Linked DNA regions of Homo sapiens. The protein of the gene in region 3 binds, or shares a complex with, the protein of the main gene of each other region. Links are inferred from orthologs where the notes say so. Each region holds a gene or a part of one and is shown on either strand. Other genes may lie near its edges.

Region 1 (9,727 bases), on a different chromosome or scaffold from region 3:
CAATAATAATAATAATAATAATAAAACAAAAAAAAAAGTACACAGTACGTGAGCGGGTGATAAAAGACAGGACCTTCCCGTGATCACTAGATGTGTAGACATGAAAGATCTGCTTCCCAGACCTGGGGCTGGAGAAGGTCTTGGTAAGGGAGTGGTGGCCTCATGTCTTCATGTCTGCCCTGAGAGAGGCTGTTTGGATGTTGCTGTGCTTGCAGGGCCTCCATGCTGAGTTTTGTCTCTGTTCAGCTGGGAACATGCAGGTGACCTTGCCAGGCAGGCATCTTCTCACTTTCTCCAGGGCGAAGAGATGAGGGCAGGGAGGTGACAGGACAGATCACTAGGGGTGGCTGTCATGAGAACTTTAGGCTGGAGTGCAGTGGTGCAATCAAGGCTCACTGCAGCCTCTACCTCCTGGGCTCAAGTGATCCTCCCACCTCAGCCTCCCGAGTAGCTGGGACTACAGGCACATGCCACCATGCCTGGCTAGTTTTTGGTATTTTTTGTAGAGATGGGGTCTTGCCATGTTGCCCAGGCTGGTCTCAAACTCCTAGGTTCAAGCGATCCTCCTGCCTCAGTCTCCCAAAGTGCTGGGATTCCAGGCATGAGCCACCGCACCTGGCCCTGTTGTGAGAACTTCTGACTCTTTCCTGGAGTGGGGTGCAGCCAGGGCAGGGCTCTGAGCCTACAGGGCCCTGACCTGACTCAGGTGGTCTCAGGCTTCCTCTGGCTCCACAAGAGGAGCAGACAGCAGGGAGCAGACAGAAGGGAGCAGGCTGTGGGGTGTCCAGGTGGGAAAGGATGGAGGCTGTGGCAGGGTGGGGACAGTGGAGGGGAAGAGTTTAGTTTCTGTAGGTGGAGCCAATAATATCTGCTGACAGGTTGGAGTGGGTGTGAAGGAGAGAGGTGAAGGACCACCCCGGAGTGTTTGGCCTCAGTCACTGGAAGGACAGAGCTGCCACTGACCTAGGTGGGGAAGGTAGTGAGGGAGCAGGTTCTGGAGGAAGGTCAGAAGCTCAGTTTAGGATATGTAAAGCTTAAAATGCCTCTAAGGGCCAGGTGCATTGGCTCACACCTGCAATCCCAGCACTTTGGGAGGCTGAGGCGGGTGGATCACGAGGTCAAGGGATTGGGACCATCCTGGCCAACATGGTGAAACCCCGTCTCTACTAAAAAATACAAAAATTAGCTGGGCATGGTTGCGCATGCCTGTAGTCCCAGCTACTCGGGAGGCTGAGGCAGGAGAACTGCTTGAACCTCAGAGGTGGAGGATGCAGTGAGCCGAGATCGCGCCACTGCACTCCAGCCTGGTGACAGAGCAAGACTCCGTCTCAAAAAAAGAAAAGAAAAAGAAAAAGGAAAAAAAAAGCCTCTGAGATCTTCCATCCTTTCCCATGGAAATGGTGAATATGATGCAGGATGTAGGAGCCTGGAGTTCGCAGGAGGTGTCTGGGCTGGAGATAGAAATTTGGGGGTTAGGGTTAGGGCCAGGTGCAGTGGCTCACGCCTGTAATCCTAGCACTTTGGGAGGCTGAGGTGGGAGGATCACTTGAGCTCAGAGTTCAAGACCAGCCTGGGCAACACAGTAAGACCTCATCTCTACAAATAATTAAAAAAGAAAAAAGATAAAGGAAATTTGGATGTTTGCCGGGCGTGGTAGCTTGTGCCTGTAGCAGTAGCTATTCAGGAGGTTGAGGCAGGAGGAGGATTCCTTGAGGCCGGGAGTTACAGGCTGCAGTGAGCTACATCACATCACTGCATTCCAGTCTGGGTGACAGAACCCCTGTCTCTAAGAACAACACAAAAAACTGGGCGTTGGCCGGGTGCTGTGGCTCATGCCTGTAATCCCAGCACTTTGGGAGGCCAAGGCGGGTGGATCACAAGGTCAGGAGATCGAGAACATCCTGGTTAACACGGTGAAACCCCGTCTCTACTAAAAATACAAAAAATTAGCCAGCGTGGTGGCAGGTGCCTGTAGTCCCAGCTACTCTGGAGGCTGAGGCAGGAGAATGGCGTGAACCCGGGAGGCGGAGCTTGCAGCGAGCAGAGATCGCGCCACTGCACTCCAGCCTGGGCGACAGAGTGAGACTCCATCTCGAAAGCAAAACAAAACAAAAAACTGGGCGTTGATAGCCTAGAGACAGGATTTAAGCTGTGCATGTAGGGGAGGCACCCCATGGCATGAGTGGTACAGAGAGGAGGATAGAGACCTAACACCTGGGGCTGCCGGGAATAAGGGGTTGGGGGCCAGAACTAGATGACAATATGGTTACGATTGGCAGTGAGTGCCATGAGAAAGTACAAGTCATTTTGAAAGCATATAACTGGAAGCCTCACCTAGTCTCAGGTTGGGTGGAGACAGGGAGGTCTTTCTGGAAGAGATGACTCCTGAGGTGACACCTGCAGCCTGAGTAGCTACACAATCAGGCCAGAAAAAAAAAGGCAGCAGGGGAGTTCCTGGCCGAGGGCATGAGGGCTGGCAGCAAGTGAGCCTCGGGAGAGGGCAGAGAGCTGGAGCAGTCAGTCTGGCAGGGAGGGGTGTGGTGAGAAGGGAATCTGGATTAGTCATCACCAAAAGATCTGTGCCAAGCCCGGGTTCAGATCTGGTTCTGCCACCCTCCGTGACCCTGCCTTTCAGAATCTCCATTCTCTCTCCTGCCCTGCAGACAAGGCTTGTGTAGCAGTTACCTTGGCCTGGCCCCAGCAAGGCCTCAGGAAACATCAGCTGCAACTAGTTTTGTCTGTTGTGATGTTGTTATTTGACCTATTATATTAATTATATTATTAACGCATAAGGGTAGTGGTTAAGGATACAGGCTAGGGAGAGTGACTGCTTGGGTTTAACCTCAGAGTCGGTTTACTTATCTGTAAAATGGGGATAATAAATAGCATCTATGTCACAGGGCTGTTAGGAGAACAAGGGAACTGATGGACGTCAAGCACTTGGAGGAGTGGTTGATGGTTACTTGTTTTTGTATCTTTTTTTTTTTTTTGAGACAGTTTCGCTCTTGTTGCCCAAGCTAGAGTGCAATGGCACGATCTCGAGTCACTGCAACCTCTGCCTCCCGGGTTCAAGCGATTCTCCTGCCTCAGCCTCCCGAGTAGCTGGGATTACAGGCACACGCCACCACGCCTGGCTGATTTTTTGTATTTTTAGTAGAAACAGGATTTCACCATGTTAGTCAGGGTGGTCCCAAACTCCTGACCTCAGTGATCTGCCCACCTCGGCCTCCCAAAGTGCTGGGATTACAGGCGTGAGCCACCACACCTGGCCTGTTTTTGTACTATTTAAGGAAGACTAAGAGTCTACCAGCTGAGGAATACAGCTGGCCTCGAGGCTGAGGGAACAGCATGAGCACAGACACAGAGCTAATGGGGGCATTTACAAAGCATTTATCACCAATTTATTTATTTATTTATTGGAGACGGAGTTTCACTCTTGTTGCCCAGGCTGGAGTGCAATGGTGCAATCTTGGCTCACTGAAACCTCTGCCTACTGGGTTCAAGCGATTCTCCTGTCTCAGCCTCCCGAGTAGCTGGGATTACAGGTATGCACCACCACATCCGGCTAATTTTGTATTTTTTAGTAGAGACAGGGTTTCTCCATGTTAGTCAGACTGGTCTCGAACTCCCGACCTCAGGTGATCTGCCCGCCTCAGCATCCCAAAGTCCTGGGGTTATTGGCATGAGCCACTGTGCCCAGTATTTATTTGAGACAGAGTCTCGCTCTGTCACCCAGATTGTAGTGCAGTGGCATGATCTCGGCTCACTGCAACCCCCGCCTCCTGGGCTCTGGTGATCCCCCCACCTCAGTCTCTAGAGTAGCTGGGACTAGGCGCATGCCACCACATTCAGCTAATTTCTGTATTATTTGTAGAGACAAGGTCTCACTATATTGCCCAGGCTGGAGTCAAACTCCTGGGCTCAAGAGATCCTCCTGCCTCAGCCTCCCAAAATGCAGGGAATACAGGCATGAACCACTTCACCCAGCCACCACTTAAGTTTTTTTTTTAATAATCAGTATTGCTGCAGATATCATTTAATTTTGATAGGGGGCCTAGTGGTATGGAGCAACCCATGTTCCCATTTTACAGATGAGAAAATCGCTGCTCAGGAATATCAAGCCACTCTTTTGGGGTTGTGCAGTTATTACAGGGCACAGCCAGGATTCAACTCAAGCCTAGCCAGCCTGCAGGGTAGGGGATAAGAGCCAGCCAGCCTGCCTGGGGGCCAGATTTAGCTCCCCCCGATGAGTCCTGAAAAAGTACTGGACTCCCGTGGCTCATGCCTGTAATCCTAGCACTTTGGCAGGCCGAGGCAGGTGGATCACCTAAGATCAGGAGTTTGAGACCAGCCTGGCCAACATGGTGAAACCCCGTCTCTACTAAAAATACAAAAATTAGCTGGGTGTGGTGGTGCATGCCTGTAATCCCAGCTACTCGGGAGGCTGAGGCAGGAGAATCGCTTGAACCTGGGAGGCAGAGACTGCAGTGAGCTGAGATGGCGCCACTGCACCCCAGCCTGGGCAACAGAGCAAGACGCTGTCTCAAAACAAAAAAAAAAAAAAAGAAAAGAAAAGAAAAGAAACCAGGCTATGTAAAAATATTATTGTAAAAAATTAAATTAAATCAAAAAAAGGCCGGTAGCCCATACCTGTAATCCCAGTACCTCACAGTACTTTGGGAGGCTGAGGCAGGAGGACGGCTTGAGGCCCGGAGTTCAAGAGCAGCCTGGGCAACATAGCGAGACCTCCGTCTCTATTATGTAAAAACAATAATATTTTTTAAGTAAATAAAGAAACCAGGCCGTGGCCAAAGGAATCTTCCTGTGTCTGGGGCCTTCTTTAGAGGCTAGCATACTGAGGACACTCTTTGGGCCAGTCCAGGAAGGAATGATTCTGGTGGCCCCTGACTGGGGCGGGGGCGTGGTAAGGTTCGCCTGGGAGGCGGCGCAGGCGCTGCCTGCGGTTTGACTGCCATCCGGGCTGCTGCAGGCACTGGGAAAGGCAATCCAGCCTCAATCCTCGCCACAGACACGGGCGACTGTCCCCCAGCGTGTGAGTCAAACCATACTCCAGGCCTCCAGGAGGTGTTTGTCGCGACAACACCTGCAGAGGGCCCGTGCGGAGTCCCTTAGTGAGCGGACCGAAAACCGCCACCCTGGAAGGATATTGGCATGCCCTAGGGTGAAAATTCACACTACGACACTCGGGGGGTGGGTCCCCTCCGAGTTCTCGTCCGCGGGTGCCTCCACCCAGACCTGAGGGGTGTCGGGAAGACCCCCGCCTACCGAGTCAGGGCGGGATTAAGACCTCCGGCGCTGGAAACGCGTAGGGCGGGGCCCAGACCTGGATCCAGCTAGCCGGGCGGTGTGGGGTGCGCATGCGCAATGTCCGCTTCGGCTCTAGGACCGCGCGGGCGACAGCAGGGCCGCGGTGCAGTGTCCGACCCGAGAGTTGCGGCCTGAGTCACCGGCCCCGCCCTCCGGAGCCGGACGCTGCGGGAGGCCCGGGAGCGGCAGTGGAACCGACTCCCAGAACTCCGGACGTGTGCGGCGGTAAGCGCCCGGCCCGTACCCCCTCCGCACCCCGCAACTCCGACTTTGGCGGCCCCCAGACCCGGCGAAACCGTGAAGTCTCGGCCTCAGGAGCCCCCCAGATCCATGGTCTCAGATTCGAACCCTCAGACCTGTTCGATCTCCTTTTATGCCGTCCCGGGGACCCTTCTCCACCCTCTGTCTCATGATCCAAAATACAGGCCCATAGGTTTCAGAGATACCCTGTGAATTCTTCCTTGGGGTGTCCTGAACCGCGATCGTAGATCTGTGCCCCCAGTTCCAGCGGGGAACCCCATTGTCCGGGAACCCAGAGCTCACAGCCACGATCTTAGACCCGAGCCCACAGAGCCAGAGGTGACACTGGAATCCTGCCGCTGGGAATACCTAAATTCTCAAGCCCACATTTGGGATTTCCTAAACCCCGCCCTGGGGCCCTTTAGGCCGTGGATGTTTGCTCCGCGCCCATGACCTGCCAAGGACCTCTACATTCAGGCTGGGCTCTGGATCTCACATTCTAGCGCCCAGACATGTCGGGAACGCCTTACGCCAACTTGGGGTCCCCACCAAGAGAACCCCCACCAGATCTGCACCCTCCCCTTCACGCGTGCACCCAGTCCAGGCTCCCTCAAGCCCCACGGGTGCCTTTTAGACCTGAGGAGGTTGCAAACCTGATCCCCCATACCTGCCCCACCCATCCGCGGACAACCCGCCCTCGCAAACTCAGACCCCCACCCGGAGGCTTCAGATTCCTCCCAGGTCCAGCTGCCGGAAATGCGTGTTTGAAGGGAGGGTGTGGGCTCAGGGGCGAAGCACCCACTGGTCCCCTTTTTTCCCCCCAGCAGTGAGTCGCAGCCATGTTCCTGGTTAACTCGTTCTTGAAGGGCGGCGGCGGCGGCGGCGGGGGAGGCGGGGGCCTGGGTGGGGGCCTGGGAAATGTGCTTGGAGGCCTGATCAGCGGGGCCGGGGGCGGCGGCGGCGGCGGCGGCGGCGGCGGCGGTGGTGGAGGCGGCGGTGGCGGTGGAACGGCCATGCGCATCCTAGGCGGAGTCATCAGCGCCATCAGGTAAGGCGGAGACTATCAGAGGGGCGGGGCCTGGGAATGGGAGGAGCCTCAGTGAGGCGTGGTCTGGGAGGGGCGTGGTCTAAAAATAGAATAGGATTAACCTGGAGGCTAACCTGGGTACATGAATTAGGCCGGGGAGGCCTGGTTTGAGAGTTCTGCTGTAAGGGGGTGGACCCCAGTGAGGCGGATATCAGTCATTGGGGGCGGTGCTTGATATGGGAGTAGTCTGATTGTGTGGGACCAGGACAATGTGGTCCTGAGGGGACTGATGTGGAGTTTTGGCGGGTGGGGCTTATGGGTCTGGGCTCAGCCTGCATTGGCTAACCTGGAGATGAACGTTAAAGGTGCGGAGCCAATGCGTCTGAGTGACATTTTACGGAAGGGGCTTGACTTATGAGTGTGGTCAGAGGTTTTAGGTGGGTTAATGAGGAGGTGAGCCCAGGAGGAAGCAAGACCTAATGGGGTAGGGTAAATGGCCCAGAATGGGCTGGGCTTGCTGGGAACTGGCTGGATTAATGGAGAAAAATGCCCTGGTAGGGATAGGGCAGGTTGGCTTAATTAGCCACGGCCACTTAGCAGTGATCCCTTGAAGGGGCGGGGACCAATGGCTGGGGTAGGATGTTGGGAAGACGGGCATTTAGGAAGCGGGCCATGGAGTAGGGTCTTGGGCAGATGGCACCTGAGGAGGATAAGGCCTTGGGAAGCTGGGGCAGAGCCTCTATGAAGTGAGCCCTCCAAGGGGCGGGGTCTTTTGATTCTACGTGGGATTTTTTAGGTTTAGGGTGGCCAAGATGACTGAAATCTGCCACTGGGTAGGTGTGCCTGGCAGGAGGGGAGCCTCCCAGGGGACCGGTCTCTGGGTTTCCTCGAGGGTGGGGTTGGCCTGAGGAAGGGAGAAGAGGGGCACGACCAGGGCAGTGTGGATTGGGACAGATGAGGACAAGAACAAATGAAAGGCACAGCAACCAAGTAAGGAAGATAACGGCTGGGGTCTGGAGCGTTGGGGCTGATGGTTCTGTAGTGCTGCCCGTTGGAGGCCCCGCCCCTGGCACTAACCCCTCCCCCTTATCTCTTCGCAGCGAGGCGGCTGCGCAGTACAACCCGGAGCCCCCGGTAAGCCCCCTCTGCAACCAGACCCCCTTCTCCTGCCAAGGCCTCTTCGAGGTCCCATCCCTGTTCCTGTAGAGAAGCCCCACCTTCCTCCCCTTCTTGTGAAATTCCTCTGCCAGTTCCTCCCATGCCGTGTCTGCAGCTTCGCCATGGGTCTTAGCCATGCCCCACATACGTGCACCCCATTCACTACCACCCCTCATTCTTTTCCTCATCAAGCTGCCCAGCCCACTCTGACTTCCCCACCCAGGGTACCTGGGTTTGGGGAGCCGTCCTGGCCGGGTTCCCCTCCCCCTGCTCTGAGCTCTCCTCCCTTTGCAGCCCCCACGCACACATTACTCCAACATTGAGGCCAACGAGAGTGAGGAGGTCCGGCAGTTCCGGAGACTCTTTGCCCAGCTGGCTGGAGATGTAAGTAACCTGGGGTCCCTGGCCCCGTCCTAACCGTTCCATCCCTTCCCTTGTGGCTGCCCTTGCACACACACCCTTGACCATGACAATCCCAGTGTTCCCATTCTCCATGACATTCTCAGACCCCTTTCAGTCACCCCTGACCTGCCCCTAACTTCCGCCCGCAGGACATGGAGGTCAGCGCCACAGAACTCATGAACATTCTCAATAAGGTTGTGACACGACGTAAGTGACCGGGGTTAAGGAATAGGGTAGATTCAGAGGCAGAGGGGTCAGAGAGGATTTGACCTCTGGCCTCTGACTTTCAACCTGTTACCCACAGACCCTGATCTGAAGACTGATGGTTTTGGCATTGACACATGTCGCAGCATGGTGGCCGTGATGGATGTATCCTTGGGGGCAGTGTGGGAGAGGCCCTGGGTGGACAGAGAGTTTTTTGAGAGTATGTTTGGGAAGCCAACATGTAGCTTTCATATCCACAGATGTGGAAATGCATTCATCAGAACACAGTCACCTGCAGACATGTGGCGGTAAATCATAACAATGCCAGCTGTCACAGCTGGCACTTTAATTATATAAAGTGACCGAACCGTCATAACCACCCTGTTGGACAGGCACAATTATTATATTCCATTTTACAGAAGAGGAAACTGAGGCTCAGTTTCCTGAAAGAAGCAGTCATTTGTCTCAAGTTATAGATAAAGGTCAGGCATGGTGGCTCATGCCTGTAATCCCAACACTTTGGGAGGCTAAGGTGGGCAGATCACCTGAGGTCAGGAGTTTGAGACCAGCCTGGCCAACATGGTGAAACCCCATCTCTATTAAAAATACAAAAATTGGCCAGGCACGGTGGCTCACACCTGTAATCCCAGCACTTTGGGAGGCCGAGGCGGGCGGATCACGAGATCAGGAGATTGAGACCATCCTGGCTAACACAGTGAAACCCTGTCTCTACCAAAAAAAAAAAAAAAATTAGCCGGGCGTAGTGGCGGGCGCCTGTAGTCCCAGCTATTCGGGAGGCTGAAGCAGGAGAATGGCGTGAACCCGAGAGGAGGAGCTTGCAGTGAGCCGAGATCGCGCCACTGCACTCCAGCCTGGGCGACAGAGCCAGACTCTGTCTCAAAAAATAAAATAAAAATAAAAATAAAAATAGGCCGGGCGCCGTGGCTCACGCCTGTAATCCCAGCACTTTGGGAGGCCGAGGCGGGCGGATCACGAGGTCAGGAGATCGAGACCATCCTGGCTAACACGGTGAAACCCTGTCTCTACTAAAAATACAAAAAAATTAGCCGGGTGCAGTGGTGAGCGCCTGTAGTCCCAGCTACTCGGGAGGCTGAGGCAGGAGAATGGCGTGAACCTGGGAGGCGGAGCTTTGCAGTGAGCCGAGATCGCGCCACTGCACTCCAGCCTAGGCGACAGAGAGAGACTCCGTCTCAAAAAAAAAAAAAAAGAAAAAAAAAGAAAAATAACAATAACAAAAATTAGCTGGGCGTGGTGGTGCACGCCTGTAGTCCCAGCTACTCGGGAGTCCCAGCTACTCAAGCAGGAGAATTGCTTGAACCCGGGAGGCGGAGGTTGCAGTGAGCAGAG
Region 2 (9,895 bases), on a different chromosome or scaffold from region 3:
CTGTTTACTCATCCATTAAATGAGGAGATAAGATCTCCCTTGACTGGCTGTGAAGATTAAGTGCACAAATATGTGTAAAGTGCACAAATATGTCAAATAAAAACTGAGACTGACACGTGGAGGTGCAAAATTAAAAAGGAAGCTTTGGTTAGTATCTCCAGAACCTGGCTAGGCACGGTGGCTCACATCTGTAATCTCAGCGCTTTGGGAGGCCGAGATGGGTGGATCACCTGAGGTCAGGAGTTCAAGACCAGCCTGGACAACATGGCGAAACCCCGTCTCTATTAAAAATACAAAAATTAGCTGGGCATGGCAGTGAGCCCCTGTAATCCCAGCTACTCAAGAGGCTGAGGCAGGAGAATTGCTTGAACCCGGGAGGCGGAGGTTGCAGTGAGCCGAGATCACGCCACTGCACTCCAGCCTGGGTGACAGAGTGAGACTCCACCTCAAAAAAAAAAAAAAAAAAATCCAGAACCTGCAGATTGTGCCTCTGATGCATCTCAAACATCCAGGGCCAGGGAGAAAATAATCTAAAGAAAAATACTACTGAAAAAGATTCCATTGCCATGGCCCTCTGAGACACACACATTCTTATTCTCTTATTTTCTCTCTCTCTCTCTCTTCTTCTCTCTCTCTCTCTTTCTATCTCTCTCTCTCACTCCCTCTCTCATTTACTCACAAGGTCAGTGGCCCAGACCCAGGCAGTTCTGGATAATCCCAGCTGTTTCTGACTCACCACCATCCTCAGGGCTGGCTGACTCACTCCAGGAAGGTTTTCCACCATGAAGTGTTTGTCTATGTCCTTGTGTTCCCGTGAAAAGGATTGTGTGGTCAGAGAAAGAGAAGACTTTGCTGGGTCAGTGAGATAGCATAGTGTGAGAGGCTTTGGGAAGTAGAAAAAGCAACATTAACTCAGGTTTAAAAACTAGACTTTGTCCAAATGGTTGGGGAAAGTAGTCATTGTATGTGTTTGCAATTAAATTTGGGTGGCATAGGACAGCCTAAAGCCCTTTGTAAGCAGAGCTCTATGTGCGCAGCGATCCCTAGAAGGCTGGCAAGGGGAGTGGCCAGGGCTGCACCAAAGAGGGTGTTGCCTAGCTGGGGAAGAGGAACTTCAGGTGAGCCAGGAGGCTCTTCTGCTCCCAGGCTGTGCAAAGCTTCTGAGTTGACTGGAATGATAGGTCTGATCTGCCCATTTGTTGCTAAAATGACTTAGGAGGGAAATGACCTCCACCTGCCTGGGAGGAGTCACTTCCTCCAGAGATGAGCTGTCCTTGAGGAGATCAGTGGGAGGAGAAGCCTGCGCTCTGCCCCACTGGGCAGAAGGACAAGCTTTCTCCCAAGAGCCTCGAGCCCAGAAGAAGTCGGGGTGGGGCCAATGGAAATCAGACAGTGGAACAAATGAACAGCTTCCAGGACAGGGCTGTCGCTTTCCTCTGTTTTCAATTGTGATGGCTTCATGAAACCCTTGCACCAGAAACCCATGAGCTAGAAATGAATGCCTGTATCCCCATCTCTGGACTCAGAGTCCAGAGTGCCAACCATTACACAATGGAACCTGTGTCCCCGCCTTATTCAAGAGTAAAGAAAGCAAAGCCTGGTGGTGGACGGTGGTACCTGCCCATCAGGCAGCATGCCCAGACTTGCAAACCAGAGATGGAGGATGTCAAATAAAAACAAAACCATGGGAGACTGAGGCAGGAGAATCACTTGAACCGGGAGGCGGAGGTTGCAATGAGCCAAGATCGCGCCATTGCACTCCAGCCCGGGCAACAAGAGTGAAACTCTGTTTAAAAAAAAAAAAAAATCCAGACTTTTATAAAGGGACACTTCAATAGAAAGAAAGACTATTGCAGGCCAGGCGCAGTGGCTCACACCTGTAATCCTAGCACTTTGGGAGGCCAAAGCAGGTGGATCACCTGAGGTCAGGAGTTCAAGACCAGCCTGGCCAACATGAGGAAACCCCGTCTCTACTAAAAATACAAAAAAATTAGCTGCACATGGCGGCTGGTACCTGTAATCCCAGCTACTCAGGAGGCTGAGGCAGGAGAATCACTTGCACCCGGGAGGCGAAGGTTGCAGTGAGTGGAGATTGCACCACTGCACTCCAGCCTGGGCAACAAGAGTGAAACAAGAAAGAAAGAGCGAAAGAGAGAGAGAGAGAGAAAGAGAGAAGGAGAGAAGGAGAGGAAGGGAAGAAGGGAGGGAGAAAGAAAGAAAAAATAGAGAAAAAGAGAAGGAAGGAAGGAAAAGAAAGAAAAGAGAAGAGAAAAGAAAAAAAAAGAGAGAAAGACAATTCCAATTCAGAGAATCTGCAAGCAGCTCAAAATCAAACAGAAAAAGATTCTTCTTTTCTAGGGTAAAGGAGGAGCAAGTGGAGATAAGCAGACTCTTGGGAGGGGAAGCTGGACAAGTGAGGGGAAATGACCAGTGGGAGCTGACAGGAAAAGGGTCTTGCTGTGTTCAGTCAATTCCCAGGAGAAGCTGGGCAGGGAAGTGACTTGGCAGGGACACTCCACTTTGTTTGTGCTTGTTCAGGCTTGGGGGCAAGCAGCATTCAGGGATCTGTAGGAAAGAGAGAAGTCTGACCAAAGTTTTGTCAAGCAAAGGGGGTAAGCAATGGGTGTCAGAGACAAGAATAGATGGGGGCAGAGGAATAATAGTGACAAAAATACTTGCTTTAAGAAAAGGTAACATCATGGCTCTCATATTAGTATAAAATAAACACATTTTAAAGATTCCATTTCGGCAGGGTGCAGTGGCTCACACCTGTAATCCCAGCACTTTGGGAGGCAGAGGTGGGCAGATCACCTGAGGTCAGGAGTTCGAGACCAGCCTAGCCAACGTGGAGAAACCCTGTCCCTACTAAAAATACAAAATTAGCCAGGCATGGTGGCAGGCACCTGTAATCCCAACTACTCGGGAGGCTGAGATAGGAGAATCACTTGAACCTGGGAGGTGGAGGTTGTGGTGAGCCGAAATTGTGCCATTGCACTCCAGCCTGGGCCAACAAGAGTGAAACTCCATCTCAAAAAAAAAAAAGAGTCCATTTAACTTGATTAAACGAGGCAATCTGGTGGATGTTATAACTGGTTCAAAGGAGAAACCAAAGCAGCACAATTTACATGACGTGAAGAGTACTGAAATGGAATATGCAACTAGACAAAAAACTGGTCTCTCTACAGGGGGACTGTAGTGCCTCTACTGGACAGAATGCATTTGCATATCTATAGGAAAAATTATTTTCCATTGCTACAGTTATCTACAACTTAGATTACTTACTTAGAGTTACTTAGGTAACTATACATTGCTACAGTTATATACAACTTAGAGTTATAAAATAACTCAAAAACAATGAAAGGGGCTCGTGTGGTGGCTCACACCTGTAATCCCAACACTTTGGGAAGCTGAGGCAGGCGGATCACCTGAGGTCAGGAATTCGAGACCAGCCTGGCCAACACGGTGAAACCCCATCTCTACAAAAAATATAGAAAATTAGCCAGATGTGGTGGTGTGCACCTGTAATCCCAGCTACGTTGGAGGCTGAGGCAGGAGAATCGCTGGAACCCGGGAGGCAGAAGATGCAGTTAGCTGAGATCGTCAAGATCCTGTCACTGCACTCCAGCCTGGGTGACAGGGTGCTACATCTCAAGAAAAACAAAAACAACAACAACAACAACAAAAACAATGAAAGGCTAGACCCAGATCTTCTGGAAGGAGATGCTCTAAACCAGGGTTTCTCAGCCTCTACATGACTGATGTCTTGGACTAGATCATGTTTTGGGTGGAGAATGTAAACCAAAAATAAAATTCTAAGCCTCCCCCTCCCCTACCCCCGCCAACCATCTAAATGGATGGTTCCTCCTTAGCCGAGGCTCTTAAAATTTTAACCTGAAATTTTCAGGCCATGAAGGAAAGGCAAGGTCGGACATGCTTCATTATACCTCTCCAGCGTGAACATCAACCAGAGTTTAGGTCTGATAAGAAACATTTTACTGCCTGTTCACTCTGAAGCCTGCTAGCTAAAAGCTTCATCTATGTGATAAAACTTTTGTCTCCACAACCTCTTATCGCAACCCAAACATTCCTTTCTATTGATCCTGGGCCTTTAGACAAACTCAACCAATTGTCAACCAGAAAATGTTTAAATATTTACCTATATCCTGGAAGCCACCCCCACTACCCACCCACCACCCCCCGCCACTTTGAGTTGTCCCGCCTTTCTGAACCAAACCAATGTATTTCTTAAATGTACTTGACTGATGGCTCTTGCCTCCCTAACATGTATAAAACCAAGCTGCACCCCAACCACCTCGGGCACATGTCCTCAGGACTTCCTGTGTCACAGGTGTGCATCTTCAACCATGGCAAAAGAAACTTTCTAAATTAAATGAGACCTGTTTCAGATTTTCTGGGTTCACAAGAGCTATCTTGGACATTGGAAGATGTTCAGCGGCATCCCTGGCTTCTACTTAGTAAAGGCCAGTAGCACCTCATCTCCTAGCTGTGACCATAAAAACTATCTCCAGACATTCCCAAATGTCTCCTGGGGTGGGTAGGGGACAAAACTGCCCCCAGTTGAGAACCACTGCTGTAGACCATGCACAGTTTTCCAGTGAAACCCAAATTCTTCCCTACTACTGTAGAGAAGAAGAGGAGGTAATTTCTGCCCATCTGCATTTCTTGGCACGCACCCATGTCTCTGTGTGTGAGATGAGAATCACACCCTAGCTCCACAACAGAGTGGTCACAGTAGCCAACACAGGCAGTATTCTAAATGCTCTCTCCCTATAGTAACCCAACTAATCCTGCCAGTTAAATATGAGTTTCAGGTAAACAATGAATCATATTTTCTTTTAGAATAAGTATGTATGCCCATGCAATATTTGGGCCCTACATATACTTTAAAAGTATCTGTTGTTTATCTGAAATTCAAATTAAACATTTGGGAGGGTTGTTGTTTTATTGGCCAAATCATTTTATTTTATTTTATTTTTGATATGGAGTTTCGCTTTGTCACCCAGGCTGGAGCGCAGTGGCGCGATCTCGTCTCACTGCAACTTCTCCCTCCTGGGTTCAAGCGTTTCTCCTGTCTCAGCCTCCCGAGTAACTGAGATCACAGGTGCCTGCCACGACGTATTTTTAGTAGAGACGGAATTTCACCATGTTGACCAGGCTGGTCTCGAACTCCTGACCCCAGGTGATCCGCCTGCCTCCGGCCTCCCAAAGTGTTGGGATTACAGGTGTGAACTACCGCACCCAGCCTTATTGGCCAAATCTGACAACCCTATCTATAATCAAATAAACAGCTGAGCAGTAGTAATTGCAGCATTGTGATTGCAATAGGCCTCCGGTGGCTTAGAGTCCCTGTTCTGCCTGTGACTGTTGTGCCACATTGGGGACGTCATTTAGCGTCTCCGAGGCTCAGTTTTCTCATCTGTAAAATGGGGACAATATCAGCGCCTTCTTCAGAGTCGCTGGGAGGATTAAATGAGATGATGTATGCAGAGCCGTTAAGACGCTGTTTGGCACAAAGTTCAGGGCAGCTGGTTTAGTTTCCTCGACTTCACTACCTGACCCTCTGCTAACTCCCCGGGTGTTTTCCGGACGGCCACAACTATCCTAGCCTTCTTCCCTATGGGCTGCAAAGGTGGCCTCGGGTTCCGGTGGGAGCCCCAACTCTGGACCGCGATTCGCGAGCCTCCCCGGCGCCGGGCCGCGCCATCCCGGGAGCTGTCCGCAGATGGCAGCACCGGCCCCGGGTCGCGGCGTTCCCGGCGCTCGGCAGGCCGCAGGATGGCCTGGTCCCGGGCCGGGAGCCCAGCAGGCCGGGAGCGGCTGAGGCCACACCCCGCGGGCCGGGCCGCTTCCCTCCGGTGAATCATCGCTCGCAGCGGCGGCGCCCGCAGTGGCCGCAGCAGCGCGCCGGGCCCTGGCCGCGCCCCAGCCGAGCGCAGCGCGGAGTCGCCCCGACCTTTCTCTGCGCAGTACGGCCGCCGGGACCGCAGCATGGCGGGCATCGCGGCCAAGCTGGCGAAGGACCGGGAGGCGGCCGAGGGGCTGGGCTCCCACGACAGGGCCATCAAGTACCTCAACCAGGACTACGAGGCGCTGCGGAACGAGTGCCTGGAGGCCGGGACGCTCTTCCAGGACCCGTCCTTCCCGGCCATCCCCTCGGCCCTGGGCTTCAAGGAGTTGGGGCCCTACTCCAGCAAAACCCGGGGCATCGAGTGGAAGCGCCCCACGGTAGGAAGCGCGCGGCAGGACGCGGGCAGGGCGGGGTGCCGGGCAGGGCGGGGTGCAGGCCGGCCCGCGGCGCGCTGGGGCGGGGGGCAGCCCGGGTGCTGCAGTGGGGAAGCCGCAAGCCAGGACCTCGCAGTCCTGCGACACCTCCGCGCCGCCAGAGCCCGGGACTCTGTTCGAGCGTGGGGGGACTCCCGGGGCCTTCCCTCTCTTCCACCCACCACGCTTTCCTGGGCGGGTCGAGGCGAATCACTGCCCTCAGATCCCACTAGCAGGCCACTTTAGGACTTCACAAAAACTCAGGGTGATGCAGGAGGCCGGGGTGAAACTTTGATTGGACTCTAGCGGGGAGCTGGAAGGGAAGGGGAATCGGGTCTGCAGGGAAGGGACGGTGAGAGGCAGCATCTACCAGACAAAGTCCGTCTCCAACTGGGGTTCTGTCTGTTCATGGAGGGGGACAGGCCATAGCCTGGTCATTTTGTGACTAAGGATAGTCTCCTGCAGCCCTGGGGTTAGATTTATTTTTCCAAAGGGGAGCCAGCGATACCTCCTCATAACATTGACACTGGTAATTAACCCAGGACACGGAGGTGTCTCATGGTTTCCCTGGCGGGAATCACCCGGGAAACCTCCGGGAGCCCTCCAGACCCCCTTATCCCGTCCCCCAGGGTCTCTGACCTCCCGGCCCTGGGACAACTTGTGCTCCCCAATCTACTTGTCCATTCTGTTTCTTGGGGAACCCCTGAGGCTCCTCCTCCTTTGGGACACTTCCCCAGGCTTCCCCTACCACGCCTAGGAAAGCCTGCCCTGAAGTCCAACTTCTAGATTCCTGTTGTGAGAACAAGGCTTCCAGCTCTGCTTCCACACCCAGCAGCCTCCCAGGTCACCTTCTGTTACCCTAAATCCAGCCCATAGGTAGCAAGGGCTGCAGGAAGCGCCCTAGCCCAGACTCAGAGCACTTGGGTTCTTCTTCTTGCTAACCTGCTGGTGACCTTGAACGAGCCATTTAACCTCTCTGTGCCTCCATGTCTTCATCTAAAAGAAAACATGCTGCCTAAATATTTTCTCTCTTTTGTGGCCCACTAGGCCCTGCCGTCATGGCCTCCTTTCAGTCTCTCAAAGAGCCGGTTCTTTCCTGCATGAGGCCTTCTCACCAGCAAGGCACGCTGTTACCTGGAGTGTGGCTCACTCTCATTCTTCCCAACTTAGTCACATGTTCCCTTCCTAAAGAGGTCTTTTCTGACCCTTCTTAGCAGCCACCTCCCCACCTTGTTTTTCTCTGTCACCCCACTCATTTCCTTCATAGCATTGTCACAGTTTAGAATATAATCACATGTATTTGTTCTTCCTACTGAACTGCAGGAATCATGTGTATATTATTTACCAGTATATCCCCAGTGCCTGACACATAACCATGCCTTTCACAGTATTCATTCATTCATTCATTCATTCATTTACTCACTCATTTGACAACACTGATTGAGCACCTGTTACATGCCAGGCACTGTCCTGAGAGCTCAGGAGATACACCAGTGAACACAAAAGAAGTGACTGTTTGTAGAATATGGATGCAGGATTGTAATGTGCCTCAAATGAAATTATGGTTGTGAAAGTGATACGCTGACCTGACTCAGTGCCTCACACCTGTAATCCCAGCACTATGGGAGGCCAAGGTGGGAGGATCGCTTGAGCCAGGAGTTCAAGACCAGCCTGGGCAACACAGTAAGACTTGTCTCTATAAAAAAGTAAAAAAAAAAAAAAAAAAAGTGAAACACAAACCAAGAGAATGTGTTCACTTTACATTTGCATGGCACTTTACAGTTTACATAGTGAGTTCACATACTCATTCACTTATTCTTTCATTCATTCAGTAAGCATTTCTCGAATACCTACTATATGCTGGGCACAATGCATATGGTTTCTGCTTCTGAAGACTTACTTCTGAGGCTAGTGAGGGGACAGAGACAGGTCCCCCAACAGTTGGAAATGCCTGTGGGACTTCCAGATGAGGATGTAGAGGTCTAGAGATGATCTAGCGCCACTGCTTAGGGCAGGCGGGCTGTGCACTGCACAACTAAGGAAGAGTGTGACTTTTACGATCCCCATTTGCCAGTTGAAGAAATTGAGGCTTGGGAAGGTTAAATACTTGCTCAGAGTCAAGTGGATATAGGGCATAGATCCAGGACTGTGTGTAGTCTGTGCATGTTGAGCCTACCCCTTATGGCTGCGCTCTCTGCCTCCTTCCTACCTTCTCAAATGCTGCTGAGGTCAGGCAAGGGGAGCACAGTTGTTTCCGCTGGATTTGAACACTAGCAAGTCATTGGTGAGTTTAGCAGAGCAATTTCAATGGAAAGGTGAGAGTAGAAGCCAGATTGTTGTAGACTCCAGAGTAAAGGAACTGGAAATTAAGAACATGATCAACTTATTTAAGAAGGACCCCCGGGAAGAGAGGAGAACTGATAGGTAGAGTAGGACCTGGACTTTGAGAGCCTGTGTTTTTTTCATATGAGAACAACTTGAATGTGTCATATGTTGAATCACCAGGAAGAAGGGATTAAAGATAAAGGCAGGGAGGGGGCAGTGAAACAGGATCCCTGAGGAAGTGAGAATACGGGTTGTGGGCAGGGGAGGGGAGCAGGTTAGCCTTGCAGCAGGAGGAGCTGCTCTTCCTCGGAGAGAGGATTTCACAACACTGGCAAGAGTGGCTCCAGTGCCTGGAGCGGGGATTAAAGCAGTAAGTCCAGTGGGGTCCAAGGGCCATGCAGGGGTACAGTGAGGAGAAAGCAGGTGTGATCCGGGTGGCACATCAGATCCTTCCAGCAACCAGTCTGTTAGGAGCAAGGGCAGATGTTGTGAGCCCCTATGTTTCCCCCAAGAAAATCAAACCTCTGAGAGGTTTCTCACTTGCTTATCTTCAGCTGGCCGAACTCAGCCTCAAACCCATATGTCCTGTCTCCAAGTTCAGTGACTGTTATCATCAACTTCTTCAACAGTAATAATAATAGATCACATTTATGGAGTGCTTGCCAGGGCATGTTTACATCATTATCTCATTTAACACTCAGAACAATCCTCTGTGGTGGGTGTTTTCATCGTTCCCATTTTGCAGGTGAAAAAACTGAGACTTCAAAAGGTTAAGTGACTTCCCAGGGTCCTACGACCTACATAATAAGTGGCAGAGCCAGGATTCAAACCTAGGTTATCAGAATAATGCAGCAAAGCCCAAACCCTCAGCCCCTTTTCACTGACTGGTAAGACCCATATTTAATTCGATGCCCTACATGCCGTGCACAAGTTTCAGTTTTCTGAAGCATCGCTTAGATGCTTAGGTGTTTAGCACCACTCTGAACTCTGACTTTTCTAGAGAGGCTGCTAAAGGCATTAGAAAGTTTCTGAAGTATAATGGAAAAACCCTGCTGGAGTAAGTGCCTGGCACACTCAGGATTATCAGTGTGATTCTTTATAATAAACAGGCTCCCAGCACCAAGCCCAATCTATTCCATCAGCTGGATAAGAGCTCTCTGGCAGGCCTTGGGCCAAGCTGGCTTCCTTTGCCTCAGCAGAAGAGCATTCTGATTCTCTCTGCCATCCCCAAAACTGACAGGAGCAGAGAGAAACAAGGCAGAGGCATGAAGGGAATGTCCTCTGCGGC
Region 3 (9,584 bases):
GGCGCCTGTTTAAAGCAAATGAAAATAGGCAGAATTATTAGGAAGATCAGGCACCTTCTATTTCAGAAGAGCCGAGACTGATGATTTAGCGAGATGGCAGAGATTAACTTTGAAATGATTAAATGAAACTATATATGTGAAAACATTGTACACATAGTCAAGGACCTTAATATTATTGTTGCTTTATAAGAATTGAAAGTGCAATAAAGTGCATTGTGTCTATATTCAAATTACTAGATTTGAAAAGTTCTTTAGCTTTCCTGATAATTGATTTTCTCCTTTATATTTTTTCTTATACATTCTATAATTTACTACCCATTATTTAACCTCAAGTTTATTTTATGGAATCGTCATGTTTGAGCTTTTACAAACATTTTACAAACGTCATGGAATAGCATTGTTTTCTTCCCAATTCACACCAGTAAAAATTTGTCACTTTCATACTAGCAGTAGAAGAACCTCAGCATCAATATTGTTTTAATTATTTACATGCTGTGAGGCAAGGCTGTGGGACCAAAGCTTTTCCAGACTTCCTTGACTAATCACCTGTGCAATACCAAATTATACATTACCAAGGAGACCACAGCACATCAAATTATAAAGGGATTGCCCTAAACCAGATCCCCATCTCCTTTGGTTGAGAACAGTGCCTCATTTGCTAGATGGAGATGAAGTAACTTTAGCGAAGTCAGCTATGCTTCCATTCCGTTTGATGTAGCATCAAAGCATATTTAGTGCTGTAGTCTGAGATTCTGATGGATTTTCATCCTGTTGCGTCAGCTTCAGGATCATCTGAAAATATCCAGAGGCACAAATGACAAAGCCCAGACCTGGCCCCGGGCAGCTCTACCATTAGCAGCTATAATCCTGGATTATAATAAAGCACTTAAAACCAGTAAAATGCCCCGTGTGTGTGTATGTGCATGTGCATGTGCATGTGTGTATGTAAACACACCCACAATGAAGAAAGTCCCCATGCAACAGAAAGGAAGAATCATTAATAGCCTAGGCTGCCGTTTACACTTCAGTTCTTAATATTCAGGCCAGAGATTCTGCCCTGATGAAGGCTATCAGTAAACATTTGCAATCAAAAACTTTTTTGCCTTTAAGAAGTAGGTTTTACAATGACACTTCTCTGATCACATTTCCCATCAGAGAGGCTTGTTTTTAGTTAACATTTTATTTGAAGATGTCACTAAAACAAGGTATAAAGCTTTATTTAGATAAAAATATTAGGAAATCGAAGAGTCAAATAAACCATGATAATTCACGGGAGCTTTCTTTGCTGTGATTATTAGATTGTTACTAACAGTGTTACATACACTGAAAGCATTTGAAGACATGATTTCAAAGATCTGTGTAATAAAATCACTCCAACAGGAAAACTGCTTCAAAGAAAATAGAAGATCATGGATGTGACTAAGCATGACAGGGAAAAGCTTTATCAGTCCCAAGACCTGGGTTCTATTCACTTTTTAACAATTTGTTTTCAAGCAACTGACTTAGCTTCCCTGAGCTTTTTACCTCAAAAAAAAAAAGCCTGCTTAGTTCACTGAGAACCATTGTGGGCATCAAATAAAACTGGATAGTGTATGTGAAAACATTTTGAAAATCAACTGGAAAGTTCTATACAGTATTGGACAGAGTTCAGCATGGTGTCTTATACAATGTAGATATTAAACACATTTTAATTGAATTCATTTAGAGGTGGAATTTTGAATGCAATGTGTTGAAAAATATGGATTTTGCTATAATAATACTAATAATAATTTACCATTTGTTGGGTCCTAACATACAACTAGTATTGTTTTAAATGCCTTTTCAATCATTTACTTTTCTCAGCAACTTAGGAGTATAAGTACTACTATTATTCACATTTCACGGCCAAGGAAACTGAAGCTGAAAGGGGTTAAATAAGCTGCCTGAATCATACAGTAAATAAATGTTAGAGGAAATAAGCTATCTTAGTTACAGTGATATTGTTGTCCATAATTTTTTTCCTCTAGAATACCAGCTCCCATTTCTGCAATTTCACTTCCATGAGCTTCCTGAAGATGAAAAGAGAGGTTTCCCCACCAGTTCAGAAATTCTCTGAAGTCTTTCAGGGCACTCATCACCAGTGTGGCAGACAAGCCCCTTCCACTCTCCTGACCCCAGATTGTCTCTGGGGTTTTGTGCTTTAGGAAGTATTAGGATGGCAGTGCCGAGCTCCATGGCTTCCCACAAACTGCGGGTCACGCTGCACTTTCTGAAATGCACCCCTCAAGATCTTAGAGTTTTAGAGAGGACCCACAGAACCAAAGAAACACTTACCCTCTATAGTTGCAGAATCTTGCTTCCTAACCATCTGACAACATTAGTAGATGTTTGTTTTCATATCCAGTTTTCTAATGGTGTTTAATTTCTAAATGAAAGGCACACATGATTGGTTCATTTGCTTTTGGACCCTTTATGTGACCTCCAGGTCACCCACTGGATATGGCTCCTGAGGCTGCCACTAAGACCTCCTTAACCTGGTGGGATCTTCACCAAGAGATGGGCAGGGTTGGGTGGAAGGTGCTGGCCCTCCAACCCCAGTAGGGTGACAGATACTGCCGCTCTTCTCCTGATCTTCCATTCCTAGGCTTCTCTTCTCTGACCCTGTCTACTCCCCTGCCCCAGCCCCAGATGTCTTTTTCTTCCAAGGAAACAGGTTCCCTCCTGAAAAGATGGAGTTCCTGGGCTAATTTGCCTCTGATACAGTTTGGCTAATGAGTGACTAATTCAGCATTATTTACTTTTCAGCAGAGTGACAAAGACCTCGATGATGCCTTGGATAAACTCTCTGACAGTCTAGGACAAAGGCAGCCTGACCCAGATGAGAACAAACCAATGGAAGATAAAGTAAAGGTAAAAAAAAAAAAAAAAAAAAAAAAAATTCACTAATAGTGAAATTTTAATCCTTGGGTCTTGACTCTGTCATTGTCATAGGAATATTGATGTGAACTTAACCTATATTTTAAACATGAAATTATAATGAAATAGAAAAATCAATCTGTACTCCACTGGAGGGGAAGGTCACTGAATCTGTGACAGAGATACCAGCGGAGCCTCCCTGAGGGGATTCTGGGAGGTAGGTGTGGGGTATGCATGGCTTCCTCCCATGCAACACAAGCAGTCAGCACATCCATTCAAATTAGCTGTTGTCCTTCAGGGTTGCTTATAAATAGGCAAAGTTGTAAATGTGACCTCTCTAAATGGCAAGGTACAGTGGCCTGATTTTGTATTAGAAAAGTGAAACCATACAGAAAAAAAGAAAAAGATATTTTATACCTTTGGGTTCTAATCTCCTAACATGGTTTCTGAAGATAATTATTTAATCATTTATTTCCATTTAAAATATAGCTAGAAAATTCACAGATATGAATTGACATACAGAAGCATACGGGATTTTATATTTTAGCCAACTAGCAGTCTGTTGAAGTCATCTGTGTTGTTCTGTTGCTTAAAAAATAAAAACAGACCATATGTTTTGCCTCATGAAAGTACAACAAATGCTGAATGCTGCATTTGACAATGTATTTTCTAAGTGAAAGAGGAAATGAATATTAATTCTATCTGCTCACTGTTGATATAGGAAAAAGCTAAAGCTGAACATAGAGACAAGCTTGGAGAAAGAGATGACACTATCCCACCTGAATACAGACATCTCCTGGATGATAATGGACAGGTAAACTGAGGCAAATTGCTAGATCGGATTTATGCTACCAAGATCTTTAAATTCAAACCTCCCTTGAAATAAATAGTAGCTATACTCCTTTACAATAGCATAAAACATACCATGACTGACTGCTTCTAATGTGTCACCAAAGCCGACCAGCAGGTAAATATTTATTTGAGCCAATATCATTATATATGCATATGCTAGGCTCTGTGGTATAAACAGGGTTGAATACTGTTCAGTCACTCACAGATGCTTAAGAGTGATCCAAGAAATGTGATTCTCTCTTTCAAGAAAAGGCTATAAAAATGACTAAGGTGATAGGATTTCAAAGGAAGCAATCTCTGTTTAAGGAGAGCAGAAAAGGAGCTGGTGTTGGGATAATTAATAGGGAAAATTAATAAGGCAGCTCCAAGACCTGGGGTCTCCCTATCTTCTCCTGCATCATCATCAGCACTATTGCAAGTGAAGACAGGCAAAGCAATATTCCCAATCACAAATCCTGTTTCTCTGCCAAAAAGTCCCTGGCCTTTTGTCTCCCACATGATAGAGGCCAGTCTTTCGTAGGTCAACCAGGCCTGTCCCCCACCTCTTTCCTATTTAGTTTCTAATTTTTGAGTCAATTAGATGATAAATAACCCTTTCCATGCCTGTTCATCAAATAAGAAACAAGGAAGACCAAATTACACCCTTCTCTTTCTGTACTGATTCATTTTGGTGAGTAAGATGATTCCTGGTTTAAATAGCAGTGTCAGCTTCAGGGTCTCCTATTACAGGAACCAATTCTCCTTGCTTGCATTCAGTATTCCTCAAGATAGCAATTCCACATCCTGCTAGAGCCCTTCCCACTTTGATAGTACCAACTCACCCTGCTTGCGTTCTTTGGGAAATTTATTATTTAAGGCCCTTGCCTTTGAAGCTGGGAAAAATCCCTGATGACTTTCTAAGTGTAATAAGCTATAGTAAATAAGATGTAAAAACACAAGTAACTTTTTATAACACTTTAAGTAGAATTATAAGTGATAATACATGATGGCAGAAGGTTCACAAATAGTGTTTCTTTCACTTCCAGGACCAGACCCTTTCATATGTTTCCCCCAAGTCTACACAAATGATTATAAAGAATAGTAATTAAGCAAAGCTGGTAAAGAAATAGTGGGGACTCAGGTTTATTAGTTATTGCAAGTCTACACTCCATTTTATCCAAGTCAAGTCATGGGACAATAGATTCTCTACTGCCTAAACCTAAGTAAACCTTTACAGATATCTATGCTTAACCAATAGTCTGCCTTCTTTTTAAGGACAAACCAGTGAAGCCACCTACAAAGAAATCAGAGGATTCAAAGGTAAAGACCATAGGAACATATTTCCATTAAATTTTGTTTTATTCTAGCCATAGGGGTATTTGGCATTTTAGAAAACTAAAACATATTGAATGCCTACTCTGTGCCTGGTACTTTGTCAAAGCATGCATATAAATGTGTGTGACTATTGTTTACCTCTCTTTTAGTCTTCACAAAAGCCCTTTAGGGTGGAAAACTGAGGCTCAGAGAATGCTAAGCAACGTGTATTAAAGAGTAGATGGAAAAAAAGCCATCAAGATTTTCTTGTTTTTCTATCTCCTTTACAATACATTATTATTAATAAAGAATGTCAGTCAGTTTTTTTCTTATAGAAACATCTTTTATTTGTAAGTGATGTGGGAAAAGACCCCATATTGCATTTTGCCTTCTGCTTCTTCACTGATGGTTATTTCTACTCATATCTCAGAAACCTGCAGATGACCAAGACCCCATTGATGCTCTCTCAGGAGATCTGGACAGCTGTCCCTCCACTACAGAAACCTCACAGAACACAGCAAAGGTACTGTGCTTTTTCACATTTCACTCTTTGAAATGTGTGTGTGTGTATGTGTACATACATATAAGTTTTATTTATTGATTGATCTATCTATCGGTCTGTCTTGTAACAGGGTCTTACTCTATAGCCCAGGCTGGAGTGCAGTGGTGTGATCTCAGCTTACTGCGATCTCTGCTTCCTGGGCTCAAGCAATCCTCCTACCTTAGCTTCCTGAGTAGCTGGGACTACAGGCGTGCACCACCACACCCAGCTAATTTTTGTATTTTTTTGTAGAGAGGGGGTTTCGCCATGTTGCCAGGCTGGTCTCGAGCTCTTGGGCTCAAGTGATCTGCCAACCTCTACCTCCCAAAGTACTGGGATTACAGGCTTGAGCCACTGCGCCTGGCCCTTACAATTTTTAAACTGTAGAATGAATCAAACGATGATATAGAGAACCTGAAAATGAAGAAAAGAAAAAATGCCTATAATTCCACTGCCCCCAAAACAGTATTATTTTGTGGATTTCCTTTTTTTTCTATATGTATATTTTACATAATTATACTTACAGTCCACTTATAAAACACTGCTTAACGTTATTTCTTAACTGCTACTTTGTAATTTCCATAGCCACCATTTTTTATCTCCACACTATATGGTTGTGCCACAATAATGCTATGTCTGTGTTCATTTAAAGTGAGAGCAGGCCCTAACTACATCAGGCACTCTCATGCTCATTTGCTCTCTGGAGCTTCCTCCCCTTTTCTGTCTGCTTAGCCCAACTGGTCTACTCTTCATTCCTCAGGGCACAGCTCAAGCATCAGCTCCTTAGGGAAGACTTTCTTGTCTTACATCTTCTCCCTTCCCAGTCCAAAGTTAGAGGCCTCTCTTCCATGCCCTCCTTGCTCTCTGTTACCTCTCTGTGCTTGTGTATCACACCACTGAGCTACGCATTTCATACAGTAGTGATGTGTCTTTTACCTCTGTGCTCCTCATTAGCAAAATGCCTGGTACTTAGCAGGTGCTCAAAACGTGATTAAAAGTGAATGAGAAACAACTGTGTAATTCAACAAGTGTGAGGCATTTTCCCTCAAGCTACACCCTCTTGTAAATCAAATAGAAGGAAACGTGAAATGAGTACCTCCTTGTTATTTTCAGGAGAGTTAATTCTGCAGATCTCAGTTTGCTATTGTTTTGGCTGTTCTAAGGCACTGCTCTCGATCACTGAATTGTCAGCCCTTCCATACTGGGTAGCTTAATTTCTAGACCACTTCAGCATCCTATCTCTCACCCCTGGTAACTCGTAAGTAATGCCTTTTTTGGTGAATGGACTTTATTTTTATACGTAACCTGCTCCAGCTTTCCTCGGTTGTTTCCCATTGTTCATTTCTCTCCCATAACACTGAAAACAGGGTTTTTTTTTGTTTTTTTTTTTTTGCCTTTTGGTACACAAAAGCCAGTCCTGATCGAGACAAGCTCTATTTTGTTTTTTAAATACATTTTATTGTGTATATTTGAGGTTTACAACATGGTAGTTTGGGATGCATAGAAATAATAAAATGGTTACTGTAGGGAAGCAGATTTACATATCTATCATTCTCACACAACTACTTTTTGTGACAAAAGCAGCTAAAATCTACTTAGTTAACAAAATCCCTAATACAATTTTATTAACCTTAGTCCTCATGTTATACATTAACTCTCTACACTTGTTCATTCTGCATATCTGCTATTTTGTATCCTTTGACCTATATCTCTGTTTCCTCCTCCTGTTCCCTACCATGGTCGCCATGTTTTATTCTCTGTGTTTTTGAGCTTTTTCTTTTATATATATTCTACATATAAGTGAAATCACTTTTCTTTCTGTGTCTGGCTTATATCATCTAGTATAAGGTCTTCCAGGTCCATCCATGTTGTGACAAATAGTAGGATATCGTTTTTTAAGGCTGAATAATATTCCATTATGTATATATACATGACATTTTCTTTATCCATTCATCAACAACTAGGTTGTTCCATATCTTGGCTATTGTGAGTAATGTTGCAGTGAATATGGGAGTGCAGATATCTTTATAAGGTGATAATTTCATCTCCTTTGGGTATATACCCAGAAGAGGGATTACTGGGTCATACAGTAGTTCTACTTTTAATTTCTTTAGGAACCTATATACTGTTTTCCATCATAGCCCATACCAATCTACATCCCCACTGACAGTGTACTAGGGTTCCCTTTTCTCCACACCCTTGCCGACATTTATTATCTATTGACAAGCTCTGTTTTGATTAGCAAAATAAGGTCTGGGTGAGTCAGGCACCACGGGAATTAGAGCATCAATGTCACCCACATTTCCCTCCTTATTTCTATCCTTTTTCCCTCCTGCTTTAAACAATTCTCTGACACCGTTGTTCAAAAAAAATCATGAAAAAACACCCAAAGTCTTCCATTATTTAATTAAATTGGAGATCTCAGAATGGTCTGGATTAATTTAACTGCAGCCTAGTTAATTGCTAGATGGATTGGTGATAGCCATAGCCTCATTACATTTCCTTTGCTTTAGGATAAGTGCAAGAAGGCTGCTTCCAGCTCCAAAGCACCTAAGAATGGAGGTAAAGCGAAGGATTCAGCAAAGGTAAATGGAGCAGTAAATATACTACAAATTAGTTTAGCAGTTACACAGAGTAGGGTTTATCATTTCAGTCATTTAGTTTCCTACTGGAATCTATTTAGAATAAAATTTCTTAAAGTACTATCTATCCCATAGCATCGCTTGGTAAAGTAATTGAATTTGTATAAATACATATATTTTTAAGTAACTGGTGCTTTAAAATCCTAAATGAATGTTCTTGACACAACCCAATTTGCCTGTGTTTTGCCTGTCTTTCTTGCCCTAATTAAAATACCACCATAGTATGTGGTTTATATAGATTTTAGAACATGGAAGTTGGAAACTTCCTATTATTAAAATTACTCAAGCTGTGATGAGAAATGAAAATTGGATTAGACAACTTCTAGGTCCCTTCCAATTCCAAGAACATATGATTTAAATGATTATTACTATGATCCCCTGGCTATAAGGAGGAGTTAAAGGTGTAGCTTTAAAGACAATAGTCCAGTTACACCAAAGCTTTTAAAACAATATATTAAAATCTTCCTGTAGTAGATTCCCTTAAGGGATATAGGAAACAGCATTGATAATTGGCAGTTATGCCATTATATCTCAGTTTAAATACTTATTTGCCTATTATTTAATTTCAGTTATACGAAGTACTTAATCAGCCCTTTAACAAATAATAGAAAGCATAATAACCCTTTATGATGAGTGGATTTACTGGACAGCCATGACCCTATGTACAGGAAAGGAAGGATCACCACAGAATGAAACATTGCCATTTAAGAACACCTATGCATATTTTATAACCTACCCTAGCCTTAAAAAAATAAAGCTGAGAGTGATACATTTAGGATCAGGATCACTTAAGGTTATTTTTAGCTTATAAGCTTGAGGAGGAAGAACTCACAATATTGTGGCCAGATGAAGAAGAGAAACTGAAAGGACCATCTTATTTTTCCCCACTGACTGCCATCTTTTGTCCCCTAATTCTGAGAAGGCCATCTCCTCATACTTAATACAGAAAAGAAAGCTCACGGATGGTTTTGCTTTCCCTTTTAGACAACAGAGGAAACTTCCAAGCCAAAAGATGACTAAAGAAATACAAGTTAAGGTATCTGGTAAGTTGGGTGTTTATTTGTAAATGAAGACAACTGTATCTTCTGCCAATTTATGTGTTATAGATGAGAGAAGTGAAGTCCACCTCTTGAGTAATTCATGCTCACTTTACAGTATTGGCATGAAATGCATACTGCAAGATCTACAGAGTAATTGGTCATTCTCTGAAAGCACTAAATGGGATGAGTTTGCTATTGAAATGTTTAAAAACCTTAATCTTATAATTAAAAGCTTTTAAAAATATTAGGCCAGGCACTTAGAATGACCATCTGAGGCTAGTTGAATCTTTGAAATCCAAATGCTCATTACTGCAGGTTATT

The links.
Region 1: the proteins of CAST (region 3) and CAPNS1 are in contact, whole or in part, in a crystal structure (PDB 3BOW), measured with the Rattus norvegicus proteins. The link is inferred for Homo sapiens from one-to-one orthologs. Residues at the interface, in NP_445747.2 of Rattus norvegicus: Pro652, Ile653, Asp654, Ala655, Leu656, Ser657, Asp659, Leu660, Asp661; in NP_058814.1 of Rattus norvegicus: Phe103, Leu106, Gln109, Leu110, Ile125, Lys128, Val129, Arg132, His133, Leu136, Phe166, Trp170, Lys174, Gln177, Lys181.
Region 2: the proteins of CAST (region 3) and CAPN2 are in contact, whole or in part, in a crystal structure (PDB 3BOW), measured with the Rattus norvegicus proteins. The link is inferred for Homo sapiens from one-to-one orthologs. Residues at the interface, in NP_445747.2 of Rattus norvegicus: Glu571, Leu572, Asp573, Ala575, Leu576, Asp577, Glu578, Leu579, Ser580, Ser582, Leu583, Gly584, Gln585, Arg586, Gln587, Pro588, Leu596, Asp597, Asp598, Lys599, Val600, Lys601, Glu602, Lys603, Ile604, Lys605, Ala606, Glu607, His608, Ser609; in NP_058812.1 of Rattus norvegicus: Glu62, Leu63, Ser68, Lys69, Gln99, Gly100, Ala101, Leu102, Gly103, Trp106, Lys161, Asp162, Leu165, Leu166, His169, Ser196, Gly197, Gly198, Thr200, Ser241, Asp243, Ile244, Thr245, Asp249, Ser250, Glu251, Ala252, Val253, Val259, Lys260.

Annotation. Positions count from the first base shown.
Region 1 is NC_000019.10:36,134,605-36,144,331, forward strand, and holds the start of CAPNS1 (calpain small subunit 1), read left to right. Parts: upstream 1-5,461; 5' UTR 5,462-5,553; exon of another isoform or gene 5,554-5,661; intron 5,662-6,385; exon of another isoform or gene 6,386-6,392; 5' UTR 6,393-6,407; coding exon 6,408-6,616; exon of another isoform or gene 6,617-6,960; intron 6,961-7,021; exon of another isoform or gene 7,022-7,074; coding exon of another isoform or gene 7,075-7,079; intron 7,080-7,695; coding exon 7,696-7,729; intron 7,730-8,047; coding exon 8,048-8,137; intron 8,138-8,304; coding exon 8,305-8,362; intron 8,363-8,459; coding exon 8,460-8,524; intron 8,525-9,727. UniProt on the Homo sapiens protein: Regulatory subunit of the calcium-regulated non-lysosomal thiol-protease which catalyzes limited proteolysis of substrates involved in cytoskeletal remodeling and signal transduction. Essential for embryonic development.
Region 2 is NC_000001.11:223,706,632-223,716,526, forward strand, and holds the start of CAPN2 (calpain-2 catalytic subunit), read left to right. Parts: upstream 1-5,907; 5' UTR 5,908-6,009; coding exon 6,010-6,246; intron 6,247-9,895. UniProt on the Homo sapiens protein: Calcium-regulated non-lysosomal thiol-protease which catalyzes limited proteolysis of substrates involved in cytoskeletal remodeling and signal transduction. Proteolytically cleaves MYOC at 'Arg-226'.
Region 3 is NC_000005.10:96,762,437-96,772,020, forward strand, and holds part of CAST (calpastatin), read left to right. Parts: exon of another isoform or gene 1-763; coding exon of another isoform or gene 764-792; intron 793-2,784; coding exon 2,785-2,889; intron 2,890-3,616; coding exon 3,617-3,709; intron 3,710-5,001; coding exon 5,002-5,046; intron 5,047-5,361; exon of another isoform or gene 5,362-5,470; coding exon 5,471-5,563; exon of another isoform or gene 5,564-5,957; coding exon of another isoform or gene 5,958-5,995; intron 5,996-8,094; coding exon 8,095-8,166; intron 8,167-9,207; coding exon 9,208-9,243; 3' UTR 9,244-9,266; intron 9,267-9,584. Other genes in the region: ERAP1 (endoplasmic reticulum aminopeptidase 1), read right to left, coding at 5,958-5,995.